2 linked regions of the Homo sapiens genome follow. The protein of the gene in region 2 purifies or fractionates together with the protein of the main gene of each other region. This does not show direct contact. Each region holds a gene or a part of one and is shown on either strand. Other genes may lie near its edges.

What was found. The genes of interacting proteins can lie anywhere in the genome.
Region 1: the proteins of EHD1 (region 2) and WARS1 fractionate together in Homo sapiens (co-fractionation; 2 studies listed by BioGRID). This does not show direct contact.

What each region holds. Positions count from the first base shown.
Region 1 is NC_000014.9:100,357,298-100,366,149, forward strand, and holds part of WARS1 (tryptophan--tRNA ligase, cytoplasmic), read right to left. Parts: intron 4,625-8,852; coding exon 4,411-4,624; intron 3,366-4,410; coding exon 3,257-3,365; intron 1-3,256. UniProt on the Homo sapiens protein: Catalyzes the attachment of tryptophan to tRNA(Trp) in a two-step reaction: tryptophan is first activated by ATP to form Trp-AMP and then transferred to the acceptor end of the tRNA(Trp).
Region 2 is NC_000011.10:64,849,290-64,854,621, forward strand, and holds the end of EHD1 (EH domain-containing protein 1), read right to left. Parts: coding exon 5,044-5,332; 3' UTR 2,353-5,043; downstream 1-2,352. UniProt on the Homo sapiens protein: ATP- and membrane-binding protein that controls membrane reorganization/tubulation upon ATP hydrolysis. In vitro causes vesiculation of endocytic membranes. Acts in early endocytic membrane fusion and membrane trafficking of recycling endosomes.

The DNA of each region.
Region 1 (8,852 bases), on a different chromosome or scaffold from region 2:
AAAAAAATCCAAATTGGAAAGGAGGAAGTAAAACTGTCTCTAATCATAGGAGATACAATCCTATATGTAGGAAATCCTATCGAATCTGCAAAAAGAAAAAAAGCATTAGCGCTAATAAACTCAGCAAAATTTCAGGATATAAGATTAATACACAAACATCAATTGTATTTTTTTTTTTTTTGAGAGGGAGTTTTGCTCTTTTTGCCCGGGCTGGAGTGCAATGGCACGATCTCGGGTCACTGCCACCTCTGCCTCCTGGGTTCAAGTGATTCTCCTGCCTTAGCCTCTTGGGTAGCTGGGATTACAGGCGCCCACCACCATGCCTGCCCAATTTTGTATTTTTAGTAGAGATGTGGTTTCACCATGTTGGTCAGGCTGGTCTCGAACTCCTGACCTCAAGTGATCCACCCGCCTCGGCCTCCCAAAGTGTTGGGATTACAGGTGTAAGCCACCGTGCCCGGCCATCAGTTGTATTTCTATATAGTAGCAATGAACAATCAAAATGAGATTAAGAAAATGCCATTTAGAATAGCATTAAAAAGATAAAATTCTAATGAATAAATCTAAGCAAAGAAGTGCAAAACCTATACACTGAAAATTACAAAACATCAATGAAAGAAATCAAAGAAGTGAAAAGACATCCCATGTTCATGGATTAGATGAATTAATATTTTAAGATGGCAATACTCCACAAATGAATCTACAGATTCAGTGCAATCCCTATCAAAATCCTAGCTGCTGCTTTTGCAGAAATGGAAAAGCTGAAATTCATATGGAAATGCAAGGGGCCCAGAATACCTAAACAATCTTGAAAAAGAACCATGTTTGAGTACTCACATTTTCTTATTTTTTTTTGAGACGGAGTCTCACTGCCACCCAGGCTGGAGTGCAGTGGCGCGATCTCGGCTCACTGCAAGCTCCGCCTCCCGGGTTCATGCCATTCTCCTGCCTCAGCCTCCCGAGTAGCTGGGACTACAGGCGCCCATCACCACACCTGGCTAATTTTTTGTATTTTTAGTAGAGATGGGGTTTCACCGTGTTAGCCAGGATGGTCTCAATCTCCTGACCTCGTGATCCGCCTGCCTTGGCCTCCCAAAGTGCTGGGATTACAGACATGAGCCACTGCGCCCAGCCAAGAATAGTCTTTTCAAAAAACAGTGCTGGGACAATTGGATACCCACAAGCAAAAGAATGAAGTTGGAGCTGTACCTCACAAATATACAAAAATTAACTCAAAAAGGATCAGAAACTGAAATGTAAGAGCTAAAACCACAAAACTCTGAGAAGAAACCATAGGTGTAAATCTTCACAACCTTCGATTAGTCAGTGGTTTCTCAGATATGACACCAAAAACACAATCAATCAAAGATAAAATAAACTGGACTTCATCAAAATTAAAAACTTTCATACTTCAAAGGACTATCAGTAGAGTGAAGAGACAACCTATATAATGGGAGCAAATATTTGCAAGTAATATTTGAATAAGAAACTAGTATCCAGAATATAGAAAGAACTATTATAACTAACAATAAAAAGACAACCCAATTAAAAAGTAGGCAAAGGATCTGAATAGACATTTCTCTAAAGATATAAAAATTGTTAATAAGCACATGAAAAGATTCTCAACATCCTTGTCATTAGGGAAATACAATCAAAACCACAATGAAATACTACTTCACACCTATTAGGATGGCTATAAAACACAACAACATGGAAAATAACAAGAGTGGGTGAAGATGTGGAGAAATGGGAAGCTTCCTATGTTGCTGGTGGGAAAGTAAAATGATACAGTTGCTGTAGAAAAGTCTGTCAGTTCCTCAAAGAGTTAAACATGGAATTACTATATAAGCCATTAATTCTATTTCGAGGTATATGCCCAAGAGAATTGAAAACATATATCCACCCAAAAACTTGTATACAAATGGTCAGAGCAGCATTGTTGATAACCAAAAAGTGAAAATAACTCAAACGTCCATCAACTAATGAATGAATAAACAAAATGTGAGGTATATCCATTCAATGGAATATTATTTGGCAATAAAAAGGAATCCAGTATGGATACATGCTACAACATGGAGGAACCTTGAAAATGTTATGCCAAGTAAAAGAAGCCAGACACAAAAGGCCACATGTTACATGATCCCATTTATATAAAATGCCTAAATCTAGATATAGAGAAAGCAGACTAATGGTTGCCAGTGGGGAGGGAGAAATGGGGGATGACTGTTAACCCATTTATGCCTACCTACTGTTCCAAAATTGGAATGCTAAACTTGTGGGAGTTATTGATATCTTACTGCTCAAGGTGATTGCCAAGGTCTGATTTTTCACAAAAAATTTTTACAACTTCTGGCATAAATGGGTTAATGGGTAGAAGTTTCCTTTTGGGGTGATGAAATGTTTTGGAATTAGATAGTCTTGATGGTCTCACAACCTTGTGAATATACTAAAACCCACTTAACTGTACATTTAAAAAAATAAGTTTTATAGTATGTGAATTAAGGAAAATTTTTTATTATATTCCACCCAGAAAGTGGGTTGAGCAAGGCCTGGAGTTCTTTGCAGGTAGAATTTGAAGTGTTTGGGCAGACTGCTGGGCTCTGTCCTGGGGTTGTTCTCCTGTAAGCGTGAAGTGCCAGTAGAACAGAACAACCCTACATCAGATCATAAATTCCATGGACACAGCTTCAAAAAGGGGGCTGCCTCAGCCCAGATAACTGTAGGTTGGGAGAGGCAGAAACTCTTTTGGAACCTGCCCATATCTTGACGTTATCTGCGTGGAATTTACGGCCTAAGGTACAGATAATCTGTTCCATGCATTCTCTGTTGGTTTGTCTGTTGGTATTGTTTATGAGCAAGTCAATACAATAGGAGGAAGAGGGTTTGGAATTTCAGGAAGCCTACTGTTTGTCATGTGGGAAATGCTGATCTTGGACATATTATTCTCTTTTGTTTTCATGACATTTTATAATTTCTTTACAGCCTGTAATCTGGGAAGAATCTCACCTGCTATTAATATGATTCCCACCTTGTGAGGTGGGCAGTCTACAAATGAAAAAACTAAGAGCCTGAGGGTGATGGACAAGCATGATCCCACAGTGGGTTACTGACAGGACAGAGGATGGATCTCAGTCTTACCACAGCTGGCCATCACTTTTCCCACAGTACCAGGTGGCTTATGAAGAGAGTGTCTTACGATTTTTTTGAACTAAAAGAAGAGGACAGGTGAGAAGGCCTGTGGTGAAGAGCCCCTGACCTGTGTGAGAAGAAGATGCCTCTGCGCAGGAAGTGGTGTGGTCTTTGGCCGGTGGCTCTCTCTATTCGGTTTATTAGCTCTTTGTCAATTTTACTACTTCCAAACCGAACTGGAAAAAAAGAAAAGATGACTTTCTTAGGTGGCAGGAGGTTTAGTGATCAGATATTACTGAAATGAAGATGAAAAGTGAGTGATCCATGCACAATCTTAATGAACACAAACCTCTTTAGGCCTTCTGCTAAAGGTCCTTACCCCCAACATGAAGTAAAAGGTCTTTGGATTAAAACAACAGCTGAGATCAACACAACCAACAAAACAGGAAATAAATTACAACACAAAATGCTGTTTTGCCTGAGACTGGGTTCTGATGGGAAACATATTCAGAATGCAGTCCAGCTAGCAACTTTTGACAACAAAATATAAACATATACATATATAAATAGGTATATATATATATATTTGTTTATTAAGGTAAAATTTATATTCATTGACAACCATGATTTCTCACATTCTTTATTTGTTGAACTGAATTAATGTCGGTCTTCAAGTGAATTTTCCCTCATTGATAGTCTATACTGAAATCATGGAAAATGGCTTTGACTTAGATGAAAACATTTCAGTTCTGTTTCTTCTCTGATAATTAGCAATGATCTCAGAGTAAAGACTTCAATGGAATGGCAACAGTCTTTCCTGAGCAGGAAGGCCCTCAAGGAAGGGCATGACAGTAAGAACTTGCCCGATGTGAGAAGTCACTGCTCTTAAGCTGACTTCCAGCCTTCTAGGTCCATAGTCAGTATCACTGGAGGTGAAACCTAAGTAATCTATGATTGACTTGTAGCCACTAAATGTTATAAATGGCCATTTCAATAGACCTTTCCCAAGTTCTGAAGTGCTCAAAAAAAGGGAAAACCTTCTATTAAGCTGTCTACTATAGATCATTATTTTGAAATATATTTTATATTGTTATTTTATTTTAAAATAATCCTTTGGGAATATAATGCACAACCAAAAGATTTTAGTATCCATTTTTTCTTGGCATTGAAGCTTCACTGAATTTATGATTAATTCAAAATTTAAAAACATCAATGGAATCAACTCAATGGGACCACTTCTAAAAGTTGCAGCTTTTTCTGGGAAGAAAGCAGAGGACGTACCAATGAGCTTATCGTAGTCTATGCCTTTTGCACTGCTTGTCTGTACTGTCCATGGGTCCACAAAATCCTCTTCAGCTTCTGTGGCATCTGGGCCATGATTACTGGTAGGTGCTGGGTTCCCTGGAGGACAGTCAGCCTTGTAATCCTCCCCCGCGGCAGCTTTGTAGCTCATTTTTAATGACACCAACATCTTTACTGCAGAATCAATTTCATCCTGAGAGAGGAAATAAAAGGGATGGCTAAAAGTATTACTAATAGCTGATATGTGCTGAATGCCTATTCTGTGGCAGGCACTGTGTTAAATGCTTTTACACGTGTTACCTTAGTTAGTGTCACAACCCTACAAGGCAGGTATTGTTGTCACTGTCCTTTTCCAGCTCAAGAATCTGAGACTCAGAGAGGTAGAGGAGCTTACCCATAGAATCACAGCAAGTCATTGGCTCGAAAACACTTCATTTTTATCTGTTATTCTAGTGCTACCATGAACACTTTGGGACAGTAGCAGTGACACAATATACACTGTCATTTATGACAAAGTTCATATGCTAAAGATTTCTCAAACACCACTGATGCCAGAGAACGTGTGTGACAAGCTCCTTTAATTGAGATTCCTGGAGTTCTGCATTGGAACTAGTTTTTACATACCACACAGGTTGAGATGAATATTTACGTTAACTTAACCAATGATGCCACTAAGGATAGTAAGAGCAACTAAAACAGATAAAAGCAAGGACAAAAAATGTAGGCTCTCAGGTTATAAATTAAGGAGGGATTCACTGGGAAATAGTTACATCATCACATTTTGGAGTCTTATCAAACTATCTTGAAAAAAAAAAAACAAAGGTAAAATGTACCCTTGGGTAGTCTGGAAATGTATTAAAGACTCTTTTGCAGGAGTCCATAGTGGCCACCCCTGGAAGCCTGGTGTTTAGAAAAGCAGGCCTAATTAAGCTGATTAGTCATGCTATGCCCTAAAGCTCTATTCTGGTAATTGGCCTTGCTGGATTAGATCACAAACAAAGAATATACACAGCCCAATTTGCTTACCAAGGGAAATACAAACATTTCCACTTACAGTTTATACAGAACATTCTTTCTTTTAAATCTCCTTAAATTCCTTTTACCATATACAGAATGTTCTATAAACACCAACCTCCATTCAGAGATAACTATTCCATCAGATATAGCACTTGGGCCATAAAGGACTGTGATTCTGGAGTAATCTGTGTTTCAAACTACAAAATTATCTGAGACTCATCATTAAAATGAGCCAGATTTGTGGAATCAGTAACCCAATGGATACGATTCATAGATGAGATGTTTGCCCAGGTTAGATAGTTAAGTATGTTCCACCCATCTCATTTCTGTAGTACCTAGGCTCAGTACTTGCAAAAAATAACAGTTTAGTACGTATAATCTATCCAATTATCTATGGGAAGGCTTACCTTGCTTTGAAGTACACTGCAGTCAATATCACTTAATAACTAGCTTTGTTGACATTTCATACTCTATCTGGTCTAATTCTGCTTGTAACTAGGAGGCTCTGCGAAAGTCAAACATTTAACCAATGTCCCTGCTCAAGGACCATCTGCATTTTGGAATAGCACCAAAATAAGACAAGCAGGCTTACCTTGTCTATTTTCTTATAATCAGTCTTAATCAGTGTCTGAACCAGGACACTGAAACAGGATTCAAAAGCTGATGTTAGCTGGGTGCAGTGGCTCACACCTGTAATCCCAGCACTTTGGGAGGCCAAGGCGGGCGGATCGCCTGAGCTCATAAGTTCGAGACCACCCTAGGCAACATGGCAAAACCCTGTCTCTACCAAAAATAGAAAAAATTAGCCAGGTGTGGTGGCACACACCTGTGTTCCTAGCTCATCGGGAGGCTGAAGTCAGAGGATTGCTTGAGCCAGGGAGGCAGAGGTTGCAGTGAGCCGAGATTGCACCACTGCACTCCAACCTGGGTGATGAAGTGAGATCCCCACCCCACAAAAAACCCAGAACATCAGTTTTTTTTAGACAGGGTCTCACTTCAGTCTCCTGAGTAGCTGGGACTGCAGGTGTGTGCCACCATGTCTGGCTAATTTTTAAATTTTTTGTAGAGACAGGGTCTCACTATATTATCCAGGCTGGTCCCAAACTCTTGGCCTGAAGCGATCCTCCTGCCTTGGCCTCCTAAGTGCTGGGATTATAGGCATGAGCCACGGAGCCTCGCCAAAAGCTGATGTTCAGAAAAAAAAGCCAGACACAAGACTGTATTACATACAGTTCAAACCCAGGTAGAGCTACCCCTGGTGGGAGGAGTCATGGCAGAGGCTGAGGCGCGTGAGGGTGGCTTCTAGGTGCTCTCTGCTTGCTGTTGATTTGGGTGCTGGTTACACAGGTGTGGTCATTTTGTGAAAATTCAGTGAGGTGCCTGCTTGTGCTTATGATCAGCATGTTTTTCTATATGAATGGTATATTTTGATTTTAGAAGTTACTTAAACAAAAAGGAGAAGAAGAAAAAGGCTCTGCTCTCTTTCTTAATACCTAAGACCTAGCATTGCTTCTTTAGTCCTGCTCAAACTATTTCCCCTCACAGCCCTCAGATGCTGACTTATTTCCCCCTAGGAAACTTGCCGCTTTAATGAGCTGCTGCTACTGAAGGATGTGGATCTTATTCTTTAGATACACTGGAGCAGAAAAGACCTTCAAGGTCCATGGCCTAGATAAATGGCAGGAGAAGAAAGAGCTCAAGGTGCCCTCTCTTAGAACTGGCACTCCCAATGTGGCTCACACTATTTTGCTAAAAGTTAATTTTTAAAATTTCCAAAACATCAAGTGCTTCTACTACCAAGACATTTCAGGGTCAGATACAAATGTACTTCTGAATTTTTCACCACTTAACTCTGGTCTCATTGTGCAACCTCTGATGTCTTCAACGTGTGCCAGCCAATTGCATTAGTCAAATAATACACTTGGAAGAGTTATTATAAAATGTATTAAGTTGACTAAAATAATGAACATAACTGCAGTCACTAAGAATTACTAACTAAAAACATTTACTAAATGTTATTCAAATTTAATATTAAATGGACAAAAATACCACTGTCAACTTCCCAAAATGATGGGCTTACATAACCCCACTGGGTCTTTTATTTATTTTATAATTTTGTTTTAAAACAACTTGGTTTAATCGTTTGAGGCCTACCTGGTGAGTAAATCTCTTTCTGTAAAAAAGTAACTTTTTTTTGACATTACTTTCTTTCAGTACTATTTATTTCATTTAAAATATGAGCTGGGTGCAGTGGCTTGCATCTATAATTCCAGCAACTTGGCAGGCTAAGGTGGGAGCCCAGGAGTTTGAGGGTGCACTGAGCTAGGATTGCACCACTGCACTCCAACGTGGAAAGAGCGAGACCCTGTCTCAAAAAATACACACACACACACACACACACACACACACACACACACAAATAATGATTTAAATCAGGGTCCCAAATAGTCAAAGTAAACTACTGGGGAATGTGAGATGGTTGACACAATCTGGTGACAAGCAAGGTGTTTGAAAAGATAACAGATAACAGGAGTTAAAAGTGTCGGAAGTCGGGCCGGGCGTGGTGGCTCACACCTGTCATCCCAGTACTTTGGGAGGCTGAGGCGGGCGGATCACCTGAGATCAGGAGTTCAAGATTAGCCTGGCCAACATGGCAAGACCCCCTCTCTACTAAAAATACAAAAATTAGCCGGGTGTGGTGGCGGGCGCCTGCAGTCCCAGCTACTTACGAGGCCAGGGCAGGAGAATCGCTCGAACTCAGGAGGCAGAGGTTGTAGTGAGCCAAGACTGTGCCAGTGCACTCCAGCCTGGGCGACAGAGTGAGACTCAGCCTCAAAAAAAAAAAAAAAAAAAAAGTGATGGAAGTCATGGAGAAGCCGGAGTGGAGTCACCCCAGAAGGAAATGAAATGCTTATGTTCTAGTTAAAGATGCGTATTGATGATGATATTTCTGAAATCTACTACAACAAAAGCAGAGATCTTCTTTTTTTTTTTTTTTTTTAAAGCATAATCCCACAAGGACAAAGGAAACAAGAAGAGGATGACAGCAACAAGGTTTCAGAAGCCAGAAAGCTGATGAATGATCAGTGCCTAACAGCATGAGAGAAAAACAAATGCTAAGACATCATGGAAATACTGGAAGGTGACCGAGTGTACACTGTTACGGAATCACCCAAAGGTTCGGGCCTTAGTGACCTTGCGCACTTACAGGAGTGGGGGCAGGAAAGCGGGTTATGAAAACAGGAGCGCTGGTTGAAGTCTCTTCAAGAAGCAGTTATTGAGAATCCCTCTCCCCTCGGCCAAGGGAGTGTCACAGTTTCCCCTCCATTCCAAGGTTTCATGTCAAGAGAGGACAGAGTTACAGGTGCCTAGACTGGGGGCAGTCTGCACAGTTGGGGCACTGG
Region 2 (5,332 bases):
TTCCTCACTCTCTGGACGCTGTCTTTTTGTGTATAATGGAGAACTGCACCTGTTCAGGTGTGAGAGACAAATGAGCTTCCCAGTATGGCCACCAATGGCCGTCCCAACCTTTCTCTGAAGGAGCACGGGCGGCAATGTGATTGGAGCCGGGGAGCTCCCTAAGCCCACCCTTGAGCCTCAGATGCCTGGCTCTTATTTGAAGGTGCGTCTGTTGGGATGGCTTTGGGAAGGAGCTGATGCAAATGCTAGGGGTGTGGACCCCCCAGTCCCCCAGCTAGTCCTGGCAGCCCCCTCCCCAACCCCATCTGCCCAGCACCAGGGGCGTGTCCTATGAAAAGTCCAAAGCTCCAAATGGGTGGACATATGGTGGTTTCATCATCCTGGTTTTTCTTCCAAAAACCTTCCCTGCAGTGTTCCAACAAGCCATAGGGGCTCCCACGCTCTGCAGCGGCTGCAGCCCCATGTGGTTTTACAATTATCAGTCCCTCTGGGTGCACAGGAAGCCAGGCCCGAGCCCACTTGGCCACCACCTCACTAGCCTACAGGCGCCACTGAGTCTGGGAGCTGCTTCAGGGAAGGGAGGGGCTGGCCTGTTTTGTTCTGGGTATTGGGTGAGGTGCCCTGCTCCCTGCACCCCACCCGACTAACCTCCTTGGGGTGCTTGGCAAAGGCCGCTCAAGGTGGGTGTCCTCGGGCTCTGCCTCTGTGGGCCACATCTGTTCCTGAATTAAGGCTTGAGGAAATGGCCTCAGTGGGGGAAGAGATCTGGCTAGAGTGGCAGAGCTGGGAGTTGAACTCAGGGCGGTCTCCCCAAGGCTGCCCTCCACGTGCTGCCAGACCTGGTGCGCTTTTAACACAGGAGTGGTGGCCGGATGTTCTCACCTCCCAACTCTCACCACCTTGCTGGCCGTGGCCGGGCAAGTCCTATGACTAGCCCATTTGATTTATTTTATGTATTTATTTTTGAGACGTAGTCTTGCTCTGACGCCCAGGCTGCAGTGCGATGGTGCGATCTTGGCTCACTGCAAACTCTGCCTCCTGGGTTCAAGCGATTCTTGTGCCTTGGCCTCCCAAGTAGCTGGCATTATAGGCGAGAGCCAGCACATCTGGCTAATTTTTGTATTTTTAGTAGAGACAGGGTTTCACCGTATTGGCCAGGCTGGTCTCAAACTCCTGACCTTATGTGATCCACTCTCCTCGGCCTCTCAAATTGCTGAGATTACAGATGTGAGCCACCGTACCCGGCCATTATTTATTTTTTACTGGTCTATTCTTCTAGAACACCCATTTGAGATAAGAACAGGGCACTGACTGGATTTGTGGTTAACTTCTTTTCTAAGGAGAAGAAATGTTTATTTAAAAAAAATTTTTTTTAAATAGAGACAGTGTCTCACTGTGTTGCCCAGGCTGGAGTACAGTGATGCCATCATAGCTCACTGCAGCCTCAAACTCCCAGGCTCAAGTGAACCTTCCACCTCAGCCTCTCAAGTAGCTGGGACTACCCACAGACACCCATCACCACTCTTGGCTAATTTTTGTTTTGGTAGAGATGGTGTGGGGGCGGGGGGGGGGGCGGGTCTCACTATGTTGCCCAGGCTGGTCTTGAACTCCCGGCCTCACACGACCCCACCTCACCCCCAACCTTGGTCTCCCAAAGTGCTGGGATTATAGGTGTGAACCAAACCCAGCCAGAAATGTTTATTCTGAATGAGATCTTACAAGGAACTGCAACATAGAAAACAGCTGTGCATGGCCAGAGGCAGTGGGCGGGCCCTTTGCCTCTTGGGTCCTGGGCTGTGAGGTGCTGCGTGGGCGACAGATTGCCCTGAAGGCCTCAGTCCACGGGCTCTGGTAGCTGGGTGGCAATGCCCCTCCTTTGCCCCAGGCCAGCCTCTGAAGAGGAGGCTTCTTCCCCAGGGTCATGGCCAGCTATGGATCTAGGGAGGAGGCGAGGGCTGGGACTAGCCCTCTAGGTGGGCGGCCACATCTCTGACCACATCCTCTGGTCCTCCCTGAACCCCGGTCGGAGCCCAAAGATGATCCCCAACCTGTAGAACCGAAACCAGGGCTATGAACTCTGGGGCAGACACCTGCCCTCAGCCCCTTTCAAGCCTCAGATCAGCAGGCGCTTCCTGGGGCAGCCCCAGGGGGTTCACAGCCCCTCTGTGGCCACACAGAGCCCTGCAGGTGGAGTGCTCCGGGAAGGAGAGCGGGCGGCCAGGCAGCACTTCCCTTCCTCCTAGTTCAGGGGCACTGCTAAGTTCTGTGCCTTCTCTAATGTGCTCACAGCTTGAACAAAAATGCTCCACCTCCCTTGGGTGACCCCTGCCCCAAGCTTTCAGGACCCCAGGCTGGAGTGACAGCATTTAACCTTTAATGTGGGTCTCTCAGCCCTGAGTACAGCTGCAGTCTAAGGGTGGGGTTGGGGGGATCTACCGTTTTTTCCTCTTAGTGTGTGCTTTGGATTAGTAACCTGATGGAAAGCACGCTGGAGTTGGACGGCCTGGTTTGCATCTGCTTCTACCACCTTTGTTATTTCGGCAGTCCTCAGTCTCGGACTCTCCCTCTGTGAAATGGGGGAACATGAACTTCCTCAGATCGTGACAGCGCAGCTCCACCTGGCACAGGGTGAATGCCCACAGGTGGCAGCTGAGTGACGCAGGGAGGGCCGGCCAGCCCTGCAGCAACTGAAGCATCCACTGGCACCTCAAGTGCTGGTCATAGGACCAGACACCACCACACCAGCTAGGCTCGGAGCACACAACTGGGTCCCTGAAACCCTCAGGAACTTGTTTCTGTCCTGCCTTCTGCCAGAGGGGCTGGAGCAGCCTCTACCCATGGCACCTCAAGTCTGCACCCTTTTATGAAGGGTCACTAATCAGTCACCCTTCCCTCTGCTGGTATAAACAGTCCCCCATCTGTGACATCACCTGGGCCTGACTGGCCCCACCCTTAGTTGCATGTTTGTCACAGGCTATCTGCTTTGTCTTCAGAGGCCCGGCTTCCCTGTACTTAAACCGTCCTTGGGGCTAGCAAGGAGCCAGTCTGGCTCCAAAGCCCAGAAACCCTTGTTTACTTGATGCCACCCAGTGCCGAGGGCCTGCAGGTGCCCACTCATCCGTCTGTGGCTGAGGGGTGCCAGCCTAGGCCTCAGCTATCAACATCCTCCCAACTGTTTCCCCCCTCCCCACCCCAAGTGAACTGCTCAGCTCCCACCTTGCTCAGGGAAGGGGGCATCACCCCAGAAACCCTTTTCCCTACAGGCCTGGCCCTCTTAGTAGGAGGGGGCAGCTACTGCCCAGCAGAGCAGGACTGGGCAGGGTTGGTCACCTTGCCCCGGCTGCCTTGCCACTCTGTCCCTGCTGGCATCACCCCCTCAGACACCAGGGGAGGATGGCCCAGGACTGCTGCCCCTGGAAAAGACAAGGAAGCACCCGAAGCTTTCGCACAGTTCAGACTTTTTAATGCAAGGAGAAAGTCTTCACTTCTCTTCCCACAGGTGTGAACAAGCCACTGCAACTTCAACAGTGACTTCCCGGCAAGGACAGCGCCCGCATCCATCCTCACCTAATACTGTATGGAGTGACGGGCTAAGGAGAACAAGGCCAGTTCCTGCAGACTCCGAGCAGCGCTGGGGAGAAGCTCCCTGAGACCCCCGCGGGAAAGCCTGGTGGGAAGCCCAGCTGTGTGGTACCTGGTGCTCCACCTGCCTTGGTGCCATCACAGCCCGGACAGTGGCCACTGGCCTGCAAACGCGCCCGGGCCCTGGAGGCTGGGCTCAATGGCCCCAGGCAGAGGAGGGGGAGGCGGCCTGAACTGGCCCGGGCCACTGGGCCGCAAGGTTCTGGTTTCTTATTGCTCAACCTGGGGGCCAGGGGCGTTGTAAGGACATCCAAGTGAGCTGCCCTCCTTTGCTAAACAGAGGAGGAAGGAAGGTAGGAAATGAAGGGGGATTACAGAAGGGGCTGGGTTTTCCCCTGGTCCCCGCTGTCTGGACATGAGAGCCTAGCCAGAACCACGGGCTTCCTCTTACCAGCACCAAGCTGTCGTGAGGCCCCGCCACCGCCACCCACCACCACCTCCCACTGTGGAGGGTGCGTCCCAAAGCTCCAGTTAAGTGAGAGGGTAGGGCAGGAGCTGGGATGACCACCCTTCCTCAGCCAGGAAATGCAACACTGGGGTCCAGGAACGGGGTGCTCCCCGGGTACCCACACCTAATGCCCCCTGGGCAGGGCTGCTCCTTGGCTGGAGGGTGGGAAGGGGAGACAAAAATCACAGCTTTTGAACAGTGGTTGGGAAGTTATTGGGAACTTTGGTCAAGTATGAAAGATATCACTTTACAGAACAGAAACTAGCTTATGTATTTTTCTGGAAGACATTCTCCTACTCCCCTGAACTCCCAAAAAAAGACCAAGGTGGCTGGGCCCTGCTTCTGTGACTGCTGAGCGGGGTTGCGCGTCGGAGCCGGTGGGGCGCGGGAGGAAAGGGCAGGGCCCGCGCACGGGGAGCCTGGGCCCGGGAGGGGAAGGCACAAGAACCCACTTCGCCCGAGAGCACGGGGGAGGCAGAGCCAGGTGAGGAAGGAAGCCACGGTCCCGTGAAGCAACCTCAGCTCAGAAGCACACGGAGGGTGCCTGGTGTTCCTGTCCATGCAGCCTCAGCCTAGCAGCTGCCAAAAGGGCGACCTGGCTCCCCCACGGTCGCAGTCGCTGCACTGTCCAGCTCCAGCCACAGCAAAGGCCGGGGGGCAGAGGCCGTGCACACAGGGCTGGCACACAGGGGAGGCGGCGACAAAGAACGCAGCCTCTAACGTTATATATTAAAATAGCCACAGTTCTTGTGCACACAATTCCATCCTCTCACCCCTGCCTCCCCCGCCAGGCCCAGGAACAGCCTTAAAAGAAAGATGGTGGTTTTCCTTTTCGAGAGGCGAGGAAACATCCGCTCAGTCTTTATGGACCTTGAGAAATGGTGAGGCTTCCCCTCCCCCCGTCTCTGCCTCCCGGCCGGGCGTGCAAATGGCAGGTGCGGGGCCGGGCGCCATCACTCATGTCTGCGCTTGGAGGGCGGCACCAGGTGCGGGGGCAGGTCGGCGGGCAGCTCGTGGCCCTCCAGCTTGACCTTGATGAGGTGGTTGGCCAGCGCGAACTCCTCGTCGTCCAGCAGCCCGTCCTTGTCCACGTCGGCCAGCTTCCAGATCTTCCCTAGCACGGTGTTGGGGAGCTTGGACTTCACCATCTCCTTCTTGGCGTTGGCGCCCGTGATCTTGCCGTTGACAGGGGACAGCGTGTAGAAGATCTCGTCGTAGGTGGGCTTGTCCTTGCCCACCACC